Linked DNA regions of Homo sapiens. The protein of the gene in region 1 purifies or fractionates together with the protein of each later gene. This does not show direct contact. Each region holds a gene or a part of one and is shown on either strand. Other genes may lie near its edges. The genes, in order: UPF3A, LONP1, CASC3, SERPINA1, ALB and TNKS.

Evidence for each region.
Region 2: the proteins of UPF3A (region 1) and LONP1 purify together in Homo sapiens (affinity purification with mass spectrometry; one large-scale study listed by BioGRID and IntAct). This does not show direct contact.
Region 3: the proteins of UPF3A (region 1) and CASC3 purify together in Homo sapiens (co-immunoprecipitation; 3 studies listed by BioGRID and IntAct, with this or other methods). This does not show direct contact.
Region 4: the proteins of UPF3A (region 1) and SERPINA1 purify together in Homo sapiens (affinity purification with mass spectrometry; one large-scale study listed by BioGRID and IntAct). This does not show direct contact.
Region 5: the proteins of UPF3A (region 1) and ALB purify together in Homo sapiens (affinity purification with mass spectrometry; 2 studies listed by BioGRID and IntAct, with this or other methods). This does not show direct contact.
Region 6: the proteins of UPF3A (region 1) and TNKS purify together in Homo sapiens (affinity purification with mass spectrometry; one large-scale study listed by BioGRID and IntAct). This does not show direct contact.

Annotation. Positions count from the first base shown.
Region 1 is NC_000013.11:114,288,101-114,291,600, forward strand, and holds part of UPF3A (regulator of nonsense transcripts 3A), read left to right. Parts: intron 1-3,388; coding exon 3,389-3,444; intron 3,445-3,500. UniProt on the Homo sapiens protein: Involved in nonsense-mediated decay (NMD) of mRNAs containing premature stop codons by associating with the nuclear exon junction complex (EJC) and serving as link between the EJC core and NMD machinery.
Region 2 is NC_000019.10:5,703,147-5,706,646, forward strand, and holds part of LONP1 (lon protease homolog, mitochondrial isoform 1 precursor), read right to left. Parts: intron 2,847-3,500; coding exon 2,626-2,846; intron 1,073-2,625; coding exon of another isoform or gene 970-1,072; exon of another isoform or gene 585-969; intron 1-584. UniProt on the Homo sapiens protein: ATP-dependent serine protease that mediates the selective degradation of misfolded, unassembled or oxidatively damaged polypeptides as well as certain short-lived regulatory proteins in the mitochondrial matrix.
Region 3 is NC_000017.11:40,161,037-40,164,536, reverse strand, and holds part of CASC3 (protein CASC3), read right to left. Parts: intron 2,785-3,500; coding exon 2,626-2,784; intron 2,605-2,625; exon of another isoform or gene 2,536-2,604; coding exon 2,384-2,535; intron 1,813-2,383; coding exon 1,636-1,812; intron 1,057-1,635; coding exon 371-1,056; intron 1-370. UniProt on the Homo sapiens protein: Required for pre-mRNA splicing as component of the spliceosome. Core component of the splicing-dependent multiprotein exon junction complex (EJC) deposited at splice junctions on mRNAs.
Region 4 is NC_000014.9:94,385,803-94,389,848, reverse strand, and holds the start of SERPINA1 (alpha-1-antitrypsin precursor), read left to right. Parts: upstream 1-1,246; 5' UTR 1,247-1,289; intron 1,290-4,046.
Region 5 is NC_000004.12:73,417,787-73,421,286, reverse strand, and holds part of ALB (albumin preproprotein), read right to left. Parts: intron 3,200-3,500; coding exon 2,976-3,199; intron 1,781-2,975; coding exon 1,648-1,780; intron 1,034-1,647; coding exon 989-1,033; 3' UTR 966-988; intron 196-965; 3' UTR 1-195. UniProt on the Homo sapiens protein: Binds water, Ca(2+), Na(+), K(+), fatty acids, hormones, bilirubin and drugs. Its main function is the regulation of the colloidal osmotic pressure of blood. Major zinc transporter in plasma, typically binds about 80% of all plasma zinc.
Region 6 is NC_000008.11:9,747,912-9,751,411, reverse strand, and holds part of TNKS (poly [ADP-ribose] polymerase tankyrase-1), read right to left. Parts: intron 3,389-3,500; coding exon 3,200-3,388; intron 1-3,199.

The DNA.
Region 1 (3,500 bases):
AGCCGTAATAAGGCTTTTGATCACTAAAGTAAACAAAATATGCTGAGGCTGCATGCTGCCTGGGCACTGACTCTGGGCCTCAGCATGGGGCCAAGTGGTAAGCAGGTTGCACAAGGCCTCTGCCTACCATCGGGATGACAGGTTGGAAGCAGGAGCAGGAATAGTCCAACCAGGGCACCTCAGTGTGTAATCACTGCCACTGATGTGACAAAGTGGAATATGGGAGGGAAAGAGGTTGGGAGACTCCCTCCAAGATAGTGGTGGAGCTGGAGCTGAGACTGGCTGCGGGAGGGAAAGAGGTCAGGAGATGAGCTGAGCCTGGCCGTGCTGAGCAGTGGAGGAAGGAAGCGCCAGGGGCAGGGCCGGCTGCTGTCGCTTTTCACTGCAGGCGCAGAGTGCAGGCTTGTGGGGTTGGCACACATGGGTGAGGGCAGCGTGGTTGGAGGTTCAGGGCACTGCAAGACATTTAGATTCATTCCAGGGCAACTGGAAGCCACTGGGGGAGTAGCATGGTCTGATTATTTGTCCCCGTCACTTTGGTGGTGTCACATGGGATAGACTGTGGATGCCAAGAGATGAGCGTGTGTTTTGGAGGTGGGCTGGACAGGACCGACAGACGGATAGGGTGTGGGAGGTAAGGGGACAGGAAGAATTAAGACTCCAGTGCTTGGCTTGAACAGATGGGTGGATTGTGGCACCATTATACACAAGGGAACATGAGGGTAGGACAGTATTGGGGGCAAAGTCGAGATTTCACTTAAGAACTTGATAAATTGAAGAAGAGCTAGAAGCAGCAAATTAGACGTTATTACAGGCCTCATCTCCCTGCCCCTCCCATTTCCATCTCACTTTGTTTTAAATGTCCCCTTGCAAAGGATCGGTCACTTTAGGGCTGTTTTGAGACATACCTTTTTGGGGCAGACACGTGGCTCCTGCCGGGGTGGGGAGAGGGGGGCATGTCCTGGCACCTCCCCGAGAGTCTGCTGCACAGCCAATGCTTCACAAAAGTTGGCTGAATGAATGAATGAATGTGGCTTAGAACCCACCATCCCTGATGGGAGCGATTAATTCATTCCAGGACTTGGCTGTAGAGTCTTCCTTGTTTCTGTGATTGCTGTTTCTATGTATGAAAAATTGAAACTTGGCCGGGTGCGGTGGCTCACACCTGTAATCCCAGCATTTTAGGAGGCTGAGGCGGGCAGATCATGAGGTCAAGAGATTGAGACCTTTCTGGCCAACATGGTGAAACCCCGTTTTTACTAAAAATACAAAAATTAGCTGGGCGTGGTAGCATGCGCCTGTAGTCCCAGCTACTTGGGAGGCTGAGGCAGGAGAATCGCTTGAACTCGGCAGGCGGAGGTTACAGTGAGCCAAGACCACGCCACTGCACTCCAGCCTGGCGACAAAGTAAGACTCCATCTCAAAAAAAAAAAAAAAAAAAATTTTAGGCAATTCATGGCAGATTACCTTTTTCTTTTCTAAGCTTTTGGCCTCCAGTGGATTCTTCTGCACAGGTCTGAGAAGCAAGTGTTAAATGGAAATACTAATAAGCTGTTTCTGGCAAGGACTCTGGAGTTGTTGAGTTAGTCTGGTGCATCGGCCTTTAGCATCGGCCTTTAGAGCAGACAGGCCTGGGTTCAGCTCTGAGACTTCTGTTTACTTGTGTTCTGTTGCATGGTTGTGCGTATTCTGTCTGATAAATAACATACTTTTATGATGTGTAGAACACTTTCTTATTCAGGGTCTAACGTACTTTGCCCGTGATCCCTGTGGGTGATAGGGCAGACATTTTATAGGAAGAGGAAGGTGGGCAAGCGGAGTCTGGGGTCAGCCTCCCCACACATCCAGGTGGTCTCGCCCGGCTCCTGGCTGACAAGTTCAGGCTTTCCACAGAGCAGAGCAGAACCCTGGCTGATTTGAGATAATTTGCCCATTACAAAGAGCTGACCATTTACCTGAGCCAGTGTGCTGTACTCACCCTGAGCCAGAGTTCATGGTCAGCCCAGGGACCCCTGGGGGAGTGTTCTCTGTGGCAACTGTGTCTGCCACGAAATGTGGCATTTGTACCTGCATCAGCTCTTCCCTACAACCACTGTGCCTGGGGCAGGGCTCCTGGGACAATCGGCTCTTCCCTACAACCACAGACTGTCCCTGGGGAAGGGCTTCTGGGACAGGTGCCATTTCATCTATGATGTCAGGGTGTCAGGGGTTCTCAGTTCCAAGTGATGGATCCCTGGCCAGGGCTTCTCCTATGATTCCTGATTCATTCCTGGTCCTCAGAATTCCAGAGATGATGTGTCAGTTTTCAGGTACATCCAGGGATTCTTCCCAGCCCTGTTTAGTCTGAGATCTTACAGACCCACAGAGTAGACCCCGTCTTCCCCCTTCCCATTTGTGTCCTTGTGTTGGTGGGATGTGGGGCCTGTCCATGTCAGCGCAAGTCCCTCTGAGGTGGGGCCTGTGGGGCCTCTAGCTTGCCTGGGCACCCACATCCAGGTCAGATCTGAGAGGTCGGGCATGAAAGCGAAGGACCAAGATAGAGTCTGTAGAAATGTTCATTCCCTAGTAGTTGGTGCCTTTTCTGCAATCAGCAGCGCCATATGGAGTCATTTTCTTTTTCTTTTCTTTTTTTTCTTTTTTTTTTTTTTTTGAGGCAGAGTTTCGCTGTTGTTGCCCAGGCTGGAGTGCAGTGGCGCAATCTCGGCTCACTGCAACCTCCTCCTCCCGTGTTCAAGTAGTTTTCCTGCCTCAGCCTCCCGAGTAGCTGGGATTATAGGCGCGTGCCATCACGCCCGGCTAATTTTGTATTTTTTCAGTAGAGACGGGGTTTCCTTAGGTTGGTCAGGCTGGTCTCGAATTCCCAATCTAAGGTGATCTGCCCGCCTTGGCCTCCCAAAGTGCTGAGATTACATGTGTGAGCCACCACGCCCGGCCCATGTGGAGTCATTTTCTAAACTACAATCCAGAGTTGTATGTCTTATCATTGGGATTTTATGGAGTATATATTGTAAGACATTACAAGAATCCATGTTATTTTAAAACTGTTGCTTGGAGAACGGAAAACGAAAAAGTTCTCAGAATATGCGATGTATCAAAATAAATATATGTTATTTAATGATTTAAGGCACCTACAAAAATATCATCTTGGAATATTTTAAGCCTCCCTTAAGAATCAGGAATTAGATGTCTACTATGTATGAAATTGTTGATACTTTCAAATTACTTGACCTGACAGTAATGGAATAAAAACTCCCCTGGAGACAGTGTGTAAATTTAAAAAGTAATGATATGGTTCCCGTATTTATTTTAAAGATTACATTCAAAACAAGTATTTAAAATACATCTTTCTTTAGGAGTTAAATACAATATTACAATTTTTGTGTTTTAGCTAGAAGAACCACACCTCTTTTGGAATATATTAAAAATAGAAAATTAGAAAAGCAGGTAGGTCTGGCCTTTACCTGATGAACACCCTCCCTGCTTCTGCCATTCTCATCCAG
Region 2 (3,500 bases), on another chromosome or scaffold:
CTCCAGCCTGGGCAACAGAGTGAGACTCCATCTCAAAAAAAAAAAAAAAAAAAAATTTACAAACTGCCCTGTCCAAAGCACCCAGTGCAGGAAGGAGGAGATGGCCGGAGGTCCACTGCTGACTCATCAGGAGAGCCAAGACGGCACTGGCTTCTGCCCAGGGCTGAGTGAGCAGAACCACAGAGGGGACGAGGCTTAGAAAATGGGACAAGGCCTGACCCAGGGCAGGTGGGGAAATGGAGGCCAGGTCCCCTGCCGGGAGAGTGACGCTGAAGGTTGGGAGGGCAACTCCATATTGGTCCCCAAGTTGGGAGCCGTGCAGCAGTGAGCAGCGGCCACTATGGGCCAGGAGCAAGTCAGTGAGGGCTGCAAGAGCACACGGCAGGATTGGGGAAGAGGATGAAGAGGAGGACGGCTTCCGAGGAAGGGCCAGGCGGCCCCACGAGCAGACACCGTCAGGGCGCACTGCCACCCAACGGGCATACGAGACGCACCGGGACAGGCCAGCTGGGCCACACGGATGCTGGAGTTTAGAGACACATGAAGTCACTGTGGAAGTGACACAGGCAGTGACACTTTGCGGAGAGCATTCTGGGTGGGAGAGGTAGCTGGCAGCCTGCTGCAGGCATCTTGGTGACACGCAGGTACTGAGGGCTTGTCCCCCGTGACTTCCCAGGACCTGAGGACAGAACCCGCCTTACAGACCCCCTCAGCTCCTGGGGGAAGGAGCTATCTGCTTCTGCAGGACAAGGCCCGGTCTGAGCAGGTACTTCCACCAGCCCAAGGGCAGCTGAGGCACTCGCTGGGAGACAGAAGAACCCCGAAAACATCTACGTTCTCCCCCCACAGGAGGCGGCGGCACAGGCCTCTCACATGGCAGCAGGGAACTGCAGATGGGGCTGAGTGAAGGTCCCCGAGACAGGAGAGCATTCTGGGTGACCCAGGGGGCCCAGGTTCCTCACCAGGTCCTCACGACAGGCGGTGGGAGGTGAGAGACTGACTGGAAGAGGCTGCGCTGTGGCTGTGAAGGAGGAAGGGGCCCCGAGCCGAGGGATGCGGGCGCCTCCAGATACTGGGAAAGGCAGGAAACGGATTCTCCTCTGGAGCCTCTGGGAGGGACGGGCCCGGCCCACAGCGGGATCTCAGGGCTCGGCATTGTGTAAGGCACTAAGTTGTGGCACCGTCGGAGCAGCCATGGGAGCTCACAGGCCACTCACCGAAATCGGGGCGTGCTGGGAGGGGAAGCCACAGCCTTCGCGCGCAACCAGTGCCTCTCAGGGCCCTGGGGGAGAGACTCCGGCGACCGTGACATTCAAATCTGAGGCGGGGTCCTGGGCCAGCAGCCAGGAAAGAAACTCATGCCTTCCCTCTAAGCGCTGTCCTACGGCCTGCCCAGCCCTGCCCCGGGGACTTCTGCCTAGAAGCTGCCCTGGCGTGACAACTGGTTCCTGGGCTGAAAACAGAGCATGCTGCATGGGAAGTGGCCAGGTGGGTTCTGTCCTGGCTGGACATGGGCATGGCTGAAAGGATCTCAGAGGTACCTGAGGCCCTCAAACCTGGGGCGGCCACCCTGACTCATGGCATGCTCAGGACAGTGGCCCCCGGGCAAGGCCAGTGCTGCGGGAAGGCATGGTCACTTCCTGGCTGACTCTCGAAGGGGCAACAGAAGCCAGGGGTAGCCTTGCAAAGACAGCCATGGGGACTCCTGGTCCTGGCGAGAAGGCCTGGCTTAGGCCAGGCGTGGTGGCTCATGCCTGTAATCCCAGCACTTTGGGAGGGCAAGGTGGGCGGATCCCTTGAGGTCAGGAGTTTGAGACCAACCTGGCCAACATGGCAAAACCCCATCTCTACTAAAAATACTAAAAATTAGCTGGGTGTGGTGGCACATGCCTGTAATCCCAGCTACTCAGGAAGTTGAGGCAGTAGAATCGTTTCAACCTGGGAGGTGGAGGTTGCAGTGAACCAACATTGCACCACTGTACTCCAGCCTGGACAACAGAGCAAGACTCTGTCTTAAAAAAAAAAAAAAGCCAGGCATGGTGGCTCGCGCCTGTAATCCTAGCACTTTGGCAGGTCAAGGCAGCCGGATCATTTGAGGTCAGGAGTTCGAGACCAGCCTGAACAACATGGTGAAACCCCATGTCTCCTAAAAATACAAAAAATTAACCAGGCGTGGTGGTGCATGCCTATAGTCCCAGATACTTGGGGGACTGAAGCAGGAGAATTGCTTGAACCCGCAAAGCGGAAGTTGCAGTGAGCCAAGATTGTGCCACTGCACTCCAGTCTGGACAACTGAGCGAGACTCCATTTCAAAAAAAAAAAAAAAAAAAAGCAGCCCTGGCTTAGAGCCAGGCGTCCCTGGGCTCAAATCCGTGGCACCACCTGCCAATTCACAGGCCCTGGCCACCAGCTCAACAGCCCCGAGCCTCGATTTCCTTGTAGAATGGAGATGGTGATGATGTGTCCTGCCCAGAACAGGGCTGATACTCGCTGGATGCCTCCCAGCCCGCACCTGCCACACCAAGAAGGTGCCACGGGGCTCCCCGCTGGGTCCCCTGGCCTGCCTAAGATGGGGGCTGAGGAGGGGTCACCTGAGGGCTGGGCCGCCCCGGGCCTGGCACTCACTTGAACTCCGAGGAGTGGTTGTCCAGCAGGCCCAGCTTGCTCAGCTCCTCGTCCACAACATCCATGACGTGCTTGGGGACCACGAGCTCCTTCAGGCGCTCCCGGAACTTCTCCTCGATGGCATCCTTGTCGTCCTTCTCCAGGCCCAGCTCCTTCTTGATGATCTTTAGCTGCTCCTGCAGCAGGTACTTACGGTGGGTCTGCTTGATCTTCTCCTCCACCTGTGGGGTGAGGTGCTGCCATCAGGCCCTGGCTCCGGGAAGCTGGGTGGGTGGGTGCGTCCCCAGACGAAGGGGGACCCTCTGCTCCCCCAGGACTCAGAGAGAAAAGAAACGAAACCCAGAGCACGAAGCCTTTGGTTCCTTCCATCTTCTTTTGTTTTTGAGACAGGGTCTACCTGTGTTACCCAGGCTGGAGTGCAAAGGCACCATCATAGCTCACCGTAGCCTCCACCTCCTGGGCTCAAGCGATCCTCCTGCCTTAGCCTCCTGAGTAACTGGGACCACAGGCACCTGCCACACCTGGCTCTAATTTTAAAATTTTTTGTAGAGATGGGGCCAGGCGCGGTGGCTCACGCCTGTAATCCTAGCACTTTGGGAGGCTGAAGCGGGCGGATCACTTGAGGCCAGGAGTTCAAGACCAGCCTGGCCAACATGGTGAAACCCTGTCTCTACTAAAATACAAAAATTAGCCGGTGTGGTATTGCACGCCTGTAATCCCAGCTACTCGGGAGGCTGAGGTGGGAGGATCACTTGAGCCCTGGAGGTGGAGGCTGTAGTGAGCTGAGATTGCGCCATTGCACTCCAGCCTAGGTGGCCGACTGAGACCCTGTCTTAAAGTAAAAAATTCTGAAAAATGCTACGACCGTGAGGTGA
Region 3 (3,500 bases), on another chromosome or scaffold:
GGTGGACATTACAGTGAGCCGAGATCGTGCCACTGCATCTAGCTTAGGCAACAGAGCAAGACTCCATCTCAAAACAAATAAATAAATAAAAATACAAAAAAAAAAATTAGCTGGGCGTGGTGGTGTGCGCCTGTAACCCCAGCTACTCAGGAGGCTGAGGCAGGAGAATCACTTGAACCTGGGAGGCGAAGGTTGCAGTGAGCCAAAATCGCGCCACTGCACTCCAGCCTGGGCAAAAGAGTGAGACTCTGTCTCAAAAAAAAAGAAGTAGACATTTGTCAGACACCACCTTCCTGAGACAGAAGTCCCATGCCCCTAAACCTGATGATGCAAAGGGGAAAAAGCTAGCCACCAATCCTATGATACCTACCTCGAAGTTCCCGTGGTTGCAGGAAAGAAGGCTGCCCCGGACTCCAATTCTGTTCTGCTATATTTAGTTGTGCCACATCTTGCTCAAGTCCACTTGTACTAGAATCCACCGGAGCTTCCCAGGTCCCAGTCTTAGTAGGTGGAGTTGGGGTGGTTTCTGGGACTGGAGGTGCTGGAATCAGTCCTTCAGGAGGAGGGGGCACCTCCTCTGCAAGCTTGACTGCATCTCCAACTTTGGTTCGAGTTCTTCTTGCCCGGGAATAGGATTTCTTCTCAATGGGCCTATCAGGGGGTGGTGGTGCAGCATCAGGAGCAGCAGCTGGTGGCTCTGAGGCTGCCTCTTCCTTCTCAGGACTGCCAAGCACTGGAGCATCTGCTTCTGGAGATGGATCCCTCACAGAAGTCTGCTCTAGGCGCCGTGACCGGTAACTAATCTCATGCTTAACAGTCTCACCAGACCGGCCACCATGCTGCCCACCAGCTTCCACAGGCCTAAAACCAGCACGACCTTCCTTGAAGCCCCCAGATCGAGAATAATTCCTGGGTGCAGACATACGGCCGGTACCTGCAGCATTCCTGTTAATAAATGTCCTTGGTGGTAGGGTGCCCCCAAGACCCTGGTGGCGATGAGACTTGTTTAGCCGCTCACCGTTCCAGTTTGGATCTCTTTGTGGAGGACTCCCATATCTACAAAAAATGGAATGAAGAAACTGTTAGGAAATTAACAAAAGGAGGCTACGCGCGGTGGCTCAGGCCTGTAATCCCAGCACTTTGGGAGATCGAGACGGGCAGATCACTTGAGGCCAGGAGTTCAAGACCAGCCTGGCCAACATAGCGAAACCTCATTTCTACTAAAAATACAAAAATTAGCCGATCGCGATAGTACGCGCCTGTAATCCTGGCTACTCAGGAGGCTGAAGCAGGAGAATCACTTCAACCCAAGAGGTGGAGGTTGCAGTGAGCCGAGAACATGCCATTGCACTCCAGCCTAGGCAACACAGCGAGACTCTGTCTTAAATAAATAAATAAAAAGAAAAGCAAAGAGAATTCTTTCTAAAAGATATCAAGAGTCTACACTCTATTTTTTTTTTCCTTTTTTTCTTTTTTTTTTTGGAGACAGGGTCTCACTATGTTCCCCAGGCTGGTCTTGAACTCCTGGCCTCAAGCAATCCTCCTGCCTCAGCCTCCCAAAGTGCCGGGATTCCAGGTGTAAGCCACCGTAAGCCACCATACCCAGCCTGGTCTTATGTTCTAAAATGTCCTCACCGGGGTTTCCGGATTCTTCGAGGTTTGATGTCATCAGGATTATGAGCTGAGCGAATGTCATAACCATAAAGAGCAATGAGCTCCTGTCGGGACTTTGGGGCCTGCTCATCTTCCCGGAACTTGTCATGCTCCCAGCGACCCTCATCCTTCCATAGCTTTCGCTGACGCCCCTTGGGTCTGGATAAAATGAAGGAAAAGTGTCTTGGGTCAGCAGAATTCTCCAAGTAGAGATGTTCTTGAACAAAATGGGTCAGGGAGGCAGGGGGACAATAGGAACTTTACGTAGTCTCCTCATCATCCCAAAGAGATTATAAAAAACAGGCCTCCCCAAAGCAAGCGTGAATCACAGAACCTCAGGGCCTGCTGGGCTCAAATATAACAGACACAGAAATGAGAAAAAGACTTCATTTCATGCCATTCAGTACCTTTGAAACATCTCCTTTCTCCTAAAAGGCAACCTATGCAAGTATTTCACTTCTCAGACGCCTTACACCTCAGACTAAGAAAAGCAAAAGTATAATAATTAAGAGAAGATGAGTTCTGGAAACAAACTGTCCTAGGTCTGTATCTTAGCTGCCTCACCAAGAGTTACCAAATATTCTAAGCCTACTTTCCTCATTTGTACGATAAGGATAATCATAATACTTATCTTAAAATGCTGTAATAAATGAAATACAGGCAAATCGAAGTACCTGGCCTACATGTGTAAAATACATGTTAGACAGCAGCAGCAGCAAGTGGCTTTTACCTGACTTCCTCCTCCTGAGTTTGCCCTCGAAGATCATGCTCAAAGAAGAGCCCTTTCCGAGGTATGTATGCTGGATTCTTCCGATCTTCATCATCATCCAAATGCTTAGGGCCCTTTTTACCCACTTTGTTCTCCACAGGCTCTGTGCTCTCCTAGAGGACAGATAAAGGGATCCTTACTCTTCCAAGCCTCAAGAATCTCTATTCCAGCCTCTAAAATGGAGGACTGTGGAATGTACTAACCTGTCCGTCCCCACTTTGCCTCTCTCCAGTCACAGTGCTTTTGGTGTCAGGCTTTTCTTCTCCCTTCTCTTCTTTTGTTGAAGAATTAACAGCATCATTAGCTTCTGATTTCAGCTCCACTTTGGAGTTTTCCTCTTCACTGTATTCACCTTCTTCACCCTGAAAAAAGTTTCCCTGTCAGCGATGCATATAAGATCTGAACGGTGCATTTTAATTCCCACCCCTGCCCCCAACCCCAAAACAAAGTCTCTGTCACCCAGGCTGGAATACAGTGGCACAATCTCAGCTCACTGTAACCTCTGCCTCCAGGGGTCAAGCAATTCTCCTGCCTCAGCCTCCTAAATAGCTGGGATTATAGGCGCCCACTACCGCGCCTGGCTAATTTTTGTATGTTTAGTAGAGACCAGGTTTCACCATGTTGGCCAGGCTGGTCTTGAACTCCTGATTTCGTGATCTGCCTGCCTTGGCCGCCCAAAGTGCTGGGTTTATAGGCGTGAGCCACCGTGCCTGGCTGCATTTCAATTTTCTACTCTTTAGGAATACATTTATCAATAAATTTTTAGTACAACATAGAACTGAAAAGCAAACAAATCAATATTCTTACCCATATTTCTAGAAAATAAAGATCCTATTTTGGCCTGGCACAGTGGCTCACGCCTGTAATCACATTTTGGGAGGCCAATGCAGGCAGATCACCTGCGGTCAGGAGTGTGAGACCAACCTGGCCAGCATGGCAAAACCCCATCTCTACTAGAAATATAAGAATTAGCCGCACTTGGTGGTAGGCACCTGTAATCCCAGCTGCTCGGGAGGCTGAGGCAGGAAAATCGTTTGAACCAGGGAGGCAGAGCTTGCAGTGAGCAGAGACTGCGCCA
Region 4 (4,046 bases), on another chromosome or scaffold:
GTAAGTGGGTTCCCTGGTCTGAATGTGTGTGCTGGAGGATCCTGTGGGTCACTCGCCTGGTAGAGCCCCAAGGTGGAGGCATAAATGGGACTGGTGAATGACAGAAGGGGCAAAAATGCACTCATCCATTCACTCTGCAAGTATCTACGGCACGTACGCCAGCTCCCAAGCAGGTTTGCGGGTTGCACAGCGGGCGATGCAATCTGATTTAGGCTTTTAAAGGGATTGCAATCAAGTGGGGCCCCACTAGCCTCAACCCTGTACCTCCCCTCCCCTCCACCCCCAGCAGTCTCCAAAGGCCTCCAACAACCCCAGAGTGGGGGCCATGTATCCAAAGAAACTCCAAGCTGTATACGGATCACACTGGTTTTCCAGGAGCAAAAACAGAAACAGGCCTGAGGCTGGTCAAAATTGAACCTCCTCCTGCTCTGAGCAGCCTGGGGGGCAGACTAAGCAGAGGGCTGTGCAGACCCACATAAAGAGCCTACTGTGTGCCAGGCACTTCACCCGAGGCACTTCACAAGCATGCTTGGGAATGAAACTTCCAACTCTTTGGGATGCAGGTGAAACAGTTCCTGGTTCAGAGAGGTGAAGCGGCCTGCCTGAGGCAGCACAGCTCTTCTTTACAGATGTGCTTCCCCACCTCTACCCTGTCTCACGGCCCCCCATGCCAGCCTGACGGTTGTGTCTGCCTCAGTCATGCTCCATTTTTCCATCGGGACCATCAAGAGGGTGTTTGTGTCTAAGGCTGACTGGGTAACTTTGGATGAGCGGTCTCTCCGCTCTGAGCCTGTTTCCTCATCTGTCAAATGGGCTCTAACCCACTCTGATCTCCCAGGGCGGCAGTAAGTCTTCAGCATCAGGCATTTTGGGGTGACTCAGTAAATGGTAGATCTTGCTACCAGTGGAACAGCCACTAAGGATTCTGCAGTGAGAGCAGAGGGCCAGCTAAGTGGTACTCTCCCAGAGACTGTCTGACTCACGCCACCCCCTCCACCTTGGACACAGGACGCTGTGGTTTCTGAGCCAGGTACAATGACTCCTTTCGGTAAGTGCAGTGGAAGCTGTACACTGCCCAGGCAAAGCGTCCGGGCAGCGTAGGCGGGCGACTCAGATCCCAGCCAGTGGACTTAGCCCCTGTTTGCTCCTCCGATAACTGGGGTGACCTTGGTTAATATTCACCAGCAGCCTCCCCCGTTGCCCCTCTGGATCCACTGCTTAAATACGGACGAGGACAGGGCCCTGTCTCCTCAGCTTCAGGCACCACCACTGACCTGGGACAGTGAATCGTAAGTATGCCTTTCACTGCGAGAGGTTCTGGAGAGGCTTCTGAGCTCCCCATGGCCCAGGCAGGCAGCAGGTCTGGGGCAGGAGGGGGGTTGTGGAGTGGGTATCCGCCTGCTGAGGTGCAGGGCAGATGGAGAGGCTGCAGCTGAGCTCCTATTTTCATAATAACAGCAGCCATGAGGGTTGTGTCCTGTTTCCCAGTCCTGCCCGGTCCCCCCTCGGTACCTCCTGGTGGATACACTGGTTCCTGTAAGCAGAAGTGGATGAGGGTGTCTAGGTCTGCAGTCCTGGCACCCCAGGATGGGGGACACCAGCCAAGATACAGCAACAGCAACAAAGCGCAGCCATTTCTTTCTGTTTGCACAGCTCCTCTGTCTGTCGGGGGCTCCTGTCTGTTGTCTCCTATAAGCCTCACCACCTCTCCTACTGCTTGGGCATGCATCTTTCTCCCCTTCTATAGATGAGGAGGTTAAGGTCCAGAGAGGGGTGGGGAGGAACGCCGGCTCACATTCTCCATCCCCTCCAGATATGACCAGGAACAGACCTGTGCCAGGCCTCAGCCTTACATCAAAATGGGCCTCCCCATGCACCGTGGACCTCTGGGCCCTCCTGTCCCAGTGGAGGACAGGAAGCTGTGAGGGGCACTGTCACCCAGGGCTCAAGCTGGCATTCCTGAATAATCGCTCTGCACCAGGCCACGGCTAAGCTCAGTGCGTGATTAAGCCTCATAACCCTCCAAGGCAGTTACTAGTGTGATTCCCATTTTACAGATGAGGAAGATGGGGACAGAGAGGTGAATAACTGGCCCCAAATCACACACCATCCATAATTCGGGCTCAGGCACCTGGCTCCAGTCCCCAAACTCTTGAACCTGGCCCTAGTGTCACTGTTTCTCTTGGGTCTCAGGCGCTGGATGGGGAACAGGAAACCTGGGCTGGACTTGAGGCCTCTCTGATGCTCGGTGACTTCAGACAGTTGCTCAACCTCTCTGTTCTCTTGGGCAAAACATGATAACCTTTGACTTCTGTCCCCTCCCCTCACCCCACCCGACCTTGATCTCTGAAGTGTTGGAAGGATTTAATTTTTCCTGCACTGAGTTTTGGAGACAGGTCAAAAAGATGACCAAGGCCAAGGTGGCCAGTTTCCTATAGAACGCCTCTAAAAGACCTGCAGCAATAGCAGCAAGAACTGGTATTCTCGAGAACTTGCTGCGCAGCAGGCACTTCTTGGCATTTTATGTGTATTTAATTTCACAATAGCTCTATGACAAAGTCCACCTTTCTCATCTCCAGGAAACTGAGGTTCAGAGAGGTTAAGTAACTTGTCCAAGGTCACACAGCTAATAGCAAGTTGACGTGGAGCAATCTGGCCTCAGAGCCTTTAATTTTAGCCACAGACTGATGCTCCCCTCTTCATTTAGCCAGGCTGCCTCTGAAGTTTTCTGATTCAAGACTTCTGGCTTCAGCTTTGTACACAGAGATGATTCAATGTCAGGTTTTGGAGTGAAATCTGTTTAATCCCAGACAAAACATTTAGGATTACATCTCAGTTTTGTAAGCAAGTAGCTCTGTGATTTTTAGTGAGTTATTTAATGCTCTTTGGGGCTCAATTTTTCTATCTATAAAATAGGGCTAATAATTTGCACCTTATAGGGTAAGCTTTGAGGACAGATTAGATGATACGGTGCCTGTAAAACACCAGGTGTTAGTAAGTGTGGCAATGATGGTGACGCTGAGGCTGATGTTTGCTTAGCATAGGGTTAGGCAGCTGGCAGGCAGTAAACAGTTGGATAATTTAATGGAAAATTTGCCAAACTCAGATGCTGTTCACTGCTGAGCAGGAGCCCCTTCCTGCTGAAATGGTCCTGGGGAGTGCAGCAGGCTCTCCGGGAAGAAATCTACCATCTCTCGGGCAGGAGCTCAACCTGTGTGCAGGTACAGGGAGGGCTTCCTCACCTGGTGCCCACTCATGCATTACGTCAGTTATTCCTCATCCCTGTCCAAAGGATTCTTTTCTCCATTGTACAGCTATGAAGCTAGTGCTCAAAGAAGTGAAGTCATTTACCCCAGGCCCCCTGCCAGTAAGTGACAGGGCCTGGTCACACTTGGGTTTATTTATTGCCCAGTTCAACAGGTTGTTTGACCATAGGCGAGATTCTCTTCCCTGCACCCTGCCGGGTTGCTCTTGGTCCCTTATTTTATGCTCCCGGGTAGAAATGGTGTGAGATTAGGCAGGGAGTGGCTCGCTTCCCTGTCCCTGGCCCCGCAAAGAGTGCTCCCACCTGCCCCGATCCCAGAAATGTCACCATGAAGCCTTCATTCTTTTGGTTTAAAGCTTGGCCTCAGTGTCCGTACACCATGGGGTACTTGGCCAGATGGCGACTTTCTCCTCTCCAGTCGCCCTCCCAGGCACTAGCTTTTAGGAGTGCAGGGTGCTGCCTCTGATAGAAGGGCCAGGAGAGAGCAGGTTTTGGAGTCCTGATGTTATAAGGAACAGCTTGGGAGGCATAATGAACCCAACATGATGCTTGAGACCAATGTCACAGCCCAATTCTGACATTCATCATCTGAGATCTGAGGACACAGCTGTCTCAGTTCATGATCTGAGTGCTGGGAAAGCCAAGACTTGTTCCAGCTTTGTCACTGACTTGCTGTATAGCCTCAACAAGGCCCTGACCCTCTCTGGGCTTCAAACTCTTCACTGTGAAAGGAGGAAACCAGAGTAGGTGATGTGACACCAGGAAAGATGGATGGGTGTGG
Region 5 (3,500 bases), on another chromosome or scaffold:
TTTGAAAAATAACAGTGCTGTACCACTCTATTAGATTCTTTCCATTTTTTATTAATTGAAGCACAGAGAAAAGAGGCAAAATGATTAAAGAAATTTATGTTTTTTAGACAGGGTGTTGGCTTTACACCAACGAAAAAGAAAAACAGATGAATAAGCTTTTGATCTTCATTTTCTTTCTCTTATTCTCATGGTAGGCTGAAAAACAAAAGGACAAATATAAGTCTTATTTGTAAAATGGCATGTGTTTTTCAAACCTATTAAAATAAATGCCAAATTACTTAGATCATCTTTCTGCAATTTACACCAGTGAAAACAATTTAAGCCTGTCCTAGACTTACGGCTGCTGAATTCTTCTGTTGGGCTAGGCAAGGGGACACACCAATAAATGTTGTCATAAGAAGATAAGTCCTATTAAAGCTCAGCATGTTGACAAATTGGAAATGTAATAGCAGATTCTTCACTATAAAGTTCACAGAAGGTAGATCCATCATATTCTCCAATGGAAAGGATGAGTTGAACTATTAGGTTGAACCATGTGAAATCACTGATATTCAACTGTTTTTGCCCTATAAAGCACTCTTTCATGTGGTTCAGCCTAATTCCCAGAGTATTCCACTGCTGAGCCATCACTTACTTGGATGGCTCTGTGTACCGCATCATATAAGTCAGAACAGGACAATGGGCAACACTGAAACTTTGGTTTCAATTTTGAATTTTGACCCTTTGGAAAATTACTTAATCTATGCTTTGATGTTTATCTTCATTTTCTCATCTACAAAATAGAAATAATAGTGGTTCCCAACTCAGCAACTATTTTGAGAATTTTAAAAGCTAATATTTACATACATAAATAGTTTAGAATAGTGGTCGGTGCTGGTCTATATGGCTCTTGGAAATGGTCAATCTTTGCTATTTTAATAATAACTATTATAGTTACTTTTTTAAAAAATTCAAAATATAGTTACCTGAGATGCTTTTAAATGTGATGTTATAAGCCTAAGGCAGCTTGACTTGCAGCAACAAGTTTTTTACCCTGAACACAAAGACATGACAGATGTTAGGAAAATATTAGCATTACTATTAGGATACAAAATTAACATTTATGAAGCTATTGATGATTGCAAAGTGATTTCACGTGCATCATATCCTTTAATTACAATTTACTACTATAATCTCTGGACGGAAGCTCACGGACATAGTTGTCCCCAAATGAATAAAAAAAAGTTACTGTCAGGCCATAAAGGGCAATTTTAAGTGATTTAGACATTTGAATGTAAATTCTCCCACTAGCCTATAAAATCAACTAAATCACAAACCACCACATTTCAAGTAAATGTTTAAATAAATTAATGTTTTGATTTCATGATCAAAATATTTCAGGCCTTACAAATATTCCTATTAATATTCATAAGCATCACAAATTTGGAAACAGAACAGGCATTATAAACATTTAACAGTATGGCACAATAGAGCAGGAGATAAAAACAAAGTGCTGTTTTATTCATTTTGTAAGACAATTGTTTGTAAAATAAGATCCCTGTCCCACATGTACAAAGCCTCCTTTGATATATAAATCCCTAAGCCCTAGCCTAACCAAACATGCAAAAATGAATACTGGACATATTAAAATGAAGAGAACTGTAGTACCTCCTCGGCAAAGCAGGTCTCCTTATCGTCAGCCTTGCAGCACTTCTCTACAAAAGCTGCGAAATCATCCATAACAGCTTTCAGTTGCTCTTTTGTTGCCTTGGGCTTGTGTTTCACGAGCTCAACAAGTGCACTGAGTTTGAATGGAAAAAGAAAAAAAAAAAACAGAAAAAACATTACTCACGTATAGAAAAATGGAGAGAGTAAGGATGGTAGTCCCATCATTTAAGATTATAAATCTTGGAGCCAGGCAACTCTGAGTACTTTGGGGCTCAGGCATACCGCTATAAGTCTCAATATTCTCATCTGCATGATGAGGATAATAAAATCCACTTTCATGGAGTTGGTGGGAAGACCAACTGAAACAATCAGTATAAACCACTCATCACGTTATGTAGTGTCAACAAATTTCTTTTCAGTAAATCTCTGAAAAGAAGTATGTCATTGCAATTATATATTATTCAGATTTTGGAAGTGCCATATTATGTCATATTGAGTTTTATTGCTATTAAAGAGCTAAAAATGATCCTTAAAAATTTAATTATCTTGGACTTTATTTAAAATTTTTCTCATCTATAAAGATGAGAAACTTTATATTTGGTTCTTAAACTTTGCTCCCTTCAAAGCTAATAGTGGGGAGGCTATAGAAAATAAGGCTATCCAAACTCATGGGAGCTGCTGGTTCTCTTTCACTGACATCTGCAAAGACAACAATGCCAGGGAGAGATTTGTGTGGGCATGACAGGTTTTGCAATATTACTCTTAAGCCTAGACGATGATTACAGCCCACAAGAGATGACAGCAACTTTCTATAGCTAAATTTTATGCAATTATAACCCCTGTGATAGCAATAGGGAGTTGAGCTTCAGGGCTTGCATTTCTACATGTTTTTTATCCAAGTCTCATTCTCAAAAGTCACATCTTGGGGGTTTGTCTCATGTGTGGGGCCACCATAGGGCAAACTTAAAATAATTATTTACATCTAGAAATAAATTCTCCTATGGTTCCCATTAACTAATTTGCCATGTGCACAAATTTATCAGTTAATTGTTCATCTTTTTCTACTGAATATGGCCTAACATGTTATTCTATTGTGGCTTTAATCCACAATATTACTCTGAATAATTTTAGCAATATTATAACAGAGGATTTTGTCTTTAAAAAGTTATTCATTTTATTCTGGGTACTCTTATCAGCATAATAAGGGCAACACTCCAATACTTTCCTCTAAGAAATATAATCACTACTTCAGGAAAAAGTTGCTAGCTTGAATTGACAGTTCTTGCTATCAAGACTACAAACACATGCAGTAATGAAATACTCCTCACGTTTGTTTCTTGATTTGTCTCTCCTTCTCAGAAAGTGTGCATATATCTGCATGGAAGGTGAATGTTTCAGCATTAAACTCTTTGGGAACGTATGTTTCATCGACTTCCAGAGCTGAAAAGCATGGTCGCCTGTTCACCAAGGATTCTGTGCAGCATTTGGTGACTCTGTCACTTACTGGCGTTTTCTCATGCAACACACATAACTGGTTCAGGACCACGGATAGCTAAAGAACAGGCAGGAGAGCAGAAATTCAAAAGAGGTGAAGCTGAAAATTTTCTACTAAAAATACAAAAAATTAGCCAGGCATGGTGGCATGCACCTGTAGTCCCAGCTACTTGGGAGGCTGAGGCAGGAGAATGGCTTGAACCTGGGAGGCGGAGGTTGCAGTGAGCCGAGATGGCACCACTGCACTCCAGCCTGGACAACAAAGCGAGACTCCGTCTCAAAAAAAAAAAAAAAATTATCATCCTCGGGGCCTTGACTGCCAATATCACACATACACACACGTGCATGCACACACACAT
Region 6 (3,500 bases), on another chromosome or scaffold:
ATGTAATTTTTAAAGATATTTCTTCTTTCATTTAAAAAAAAGCACTTTCAGTGTTAACTGTCACCCTTCTTTAGAAAAAATTTCTGTGTTTACTATATTTTGTTTACGTTTAAACAGCTATAATCTGGTTATTTACTTCACACTTAATAATTTCATGTACAATTAACATCTGGTGAAATTTCAAAGGGATGACACTTTAATTTAGCTCATTTATTCATAAACTTTTCAGTTTTTAAGTATTAGATGCAACTGCTTTTCGAGTATGCGGGAGATAGTCTCCAAAGACAGCCACCCATCAATTCCTTCCTCCCGTCATGTATGCCTCCCCTTGAATTTCTGCCCCCTACCCGCCGAATGTGGTTTGCCCTGTGAGTTGTCTTGACCAATAGAATGGAGAAGAAGTGACATTCTGAGGCTTTTGAGCCAGGCTTTAAGTGGATTGGCAGTGTCTACTTTTACTCTCTTAGAAGCCATCTGCCATGTTGTACAGAAGTTTGGGCTAGACTACTGAGTGGTGAGATCCTATGCAGGGAGAGCCCTGCGGGATGAAAGGCCATCTTGGAAGCTCCAGCCTCTGCTGAGTTCCCAGGTGCAGGTAACTGCAAAACCAGAACCACCCAGCTGAGCCCAGTCAACTCCCAGACGTGTGAGAAATAATAAATTGTCACGTTAAACCCTCAGTGGGTTTGGGGGTGGCTTAGTGGGCAGCAATAGAGAAATGAAATGCACACCAGTACCTGGAAGTGGGGTGCTGGTGGACATGTGGCTTTGGTTGGAGGCGTGAAGGGTGGCCTGGTTATTGCTGAGGGAGGCTGTGAATGGAAGATAGATAGGCAAGTGCTACTGAAGGCGAGAGAAAGGGGACTAATGCTGTGTAGCAGAAAGTTTGGCAACGCTGCCACAGGAGGTCTTACGGAAGGTAGAACGTAAACCTAAATAAATTTGTAAATTTGGCTAAGGAAATTTCCAGAACAAATTCTGCCTTGTCAACTGGACTGGTGTGTTTATCTGCCCATGATAAGGTACAGGAAGAGAGAAAGGAACTGTCCAGTTCTCTTTAAGGAAATGTATTCACCTAACATTTGCTAGCTTAGAAAACAAAATTATTCACCATTCCCAGCCTCTCCATCAGCAAAAGTTTCTTCAAGTAAGGCACAGCCTCAGGCCAAAGGTCAAATCCAGCGTGCTGACAGGAAAACATGGCCTCAGAATAAAAATCAACTAGAGGTACAGATATATTACCTCAAAATCTTTAAAAAACCTCTAAGGTGGTACCTTGTGAATTCCCTTGGCTAGATGAAAGAGCTTCAAAGGATCTTATGGGCATTGTCCCACTGCACCTTTACTTGGATTCCATGTTAGAGAGGGACCTGTCTTGAAAAGATTTGTGGGTGGAGCTTTTGGCTGATGGAGTGGTGTGTAATTTGATGGGAAATCCAAAAGTTTACAAAGGAAGAGTTGTACTAGTTTGGACTAAAAGGGACAGGTAGATCAAAATGATAAAAGGCTCAGGGTCCCGAAAATTTCTAGGAGCAGGGAACAGGTTGAGAAAGCCACTTGGCTGTAAATATGATCCATTTCTTATGAAAAGAGAAGGATAATTCAGAGGGCATGGCCAAGAGCTACAGAGGCTATGTACAGTGGTTCACACCTGTAATCCCAGCACTTTGGGAGGCTGAGGAAGGAGGCTGAGGGAGGAGCCCAGAAGTTCAAGACTAACCTGGGCAACATAGCAAGACCCTGTCTCTACAAAAAGTAAAAACAAAAAAAATAGCCAGGCATAGTGGCATGTGCCTGTAGTCCCAGCTACTCAGGAGATTGAGATACGAGGATGGCTTGAATCTAAGAGGTTGGGGTTGTGGTGAGCCATGATCACGCCACTGCACTCTGGCTTGGGTGACATAGCCAGACTGTGTCTTAAGGGGGAAAAAAAAAAAAAAGAAAAGAAAAAAAAGGAAAAAAAAAGACAGCCACAGTGAACCACTCCCTGGGAGCAGAACTGGGCCCTAATCAGGGATCATTCCCTAACTCCAGAGTAGATGGCCCTGATAACATGTGTCTGGCTGAATTTTAGAATTGCTAAGGACCCAGTGATGACTATCTGCCCCCTGTTGGTGGGGGGAGCACGTGGCAGGTGAGTGTAATTTGAATGTGGGAAAAATAGATTTAATTTGTATTCACAGGGAAGACTGTGGCTGATTAAAGATGGCCACGAAATTTTTGCTTCTCCTTTCAAAGAAGGTGGAATCTGTTTTCCTATCCCTTGAACCTGAGCTGACTTCATGACTTGCTTTGCACAACAGAATGTGGCAGAAGTGACAGCATGTCAGTTCCAGGCTTAGCCTTAAAGAACAATGACAGCCTCTGCTTTCTCCCTCTTGAGATACAATTATTCTGTGAAGAAATTCTAACAAGACCACTTAATGATGAGATGCCACATGGGACTAGAGAGGCCCCTGCCTTCTAGTTGTATCTGTCAAGGCCCCAGGCATATGAATGAAGCCGTCTTTATGTTTCTGCCCCAGCCACCAGCTATATGCAGTTGCACAAGTGACCCCAGGTAAGACCAGAAGAATCTCCTAGCCAACATACAGAATCATAAGAAATAATAAGTCATTATTATTTTAAGCCACTGGGTGTTTTGAAACAGTTTGTTACGCAGCAATCAATAAATGAAACAGAACATAACTTGAAAAAACATTTCTGGCTTAAAAATTAGAAATTACTGTGACTATACAGTAACTCCCTGGTTTTCAGAAAGTTCACGGAAGATGATGCAGTGCTTAACTTTGCAGTTAAATAATACTGCCCAGAGTTAATTTTTCTTTGACTATCTCACAGACTTAGGTAAATTATCATGAACATTAGTTGCTCTACAATAACATGCCAAATATAGAAGGTACAAGATATTTTACTAAATATAATTCTTTGAGGGTACACTCTAAAAACATGTTTTCTTAAGATCCATGTTTTCCCAGCAGGCTAAGAATGGCAAAAAATTAAATTAACTTACTGTTTAGTTTGTCTTAAGAGTTTTAAATTATATTTTCATAGAAAAAGTGTGAACTTCAAAAATTTTCAGAAGATCTCTGTTCTAAGTGAAATAAACACGACTAAAAGTAAGCTGGTGAACCCGAGAATCTGATGTCATCTGTGAAAGTAGAAGGAACAATAATCAGTATCTGAAATGAGGACTTACTGTTGCCAGATCCAGAGGCGTCTGGCCTTCCTGGTTCTTCATGGTGGGGTCTGCACCATGCGCTAGGAGGAGGGCGCACAGCTGCGTCCTTCCTTTCTGGGCTGCTTCATGGAGGGGAGTAAACGCCCACTTATCTGTTGCATTTACACACGTGTTGTATTTTATCAATAAAGCCGCTATGTCAACATGCTGAAAAAAAAGAAAAGGATACAAAGAGTTAAGAATGAGATCATCTGGTAAAGCACCATTGTGTATACCTGTTTTTATTTAACAATTCACTCCTCTGTATCTCCATTTTCAT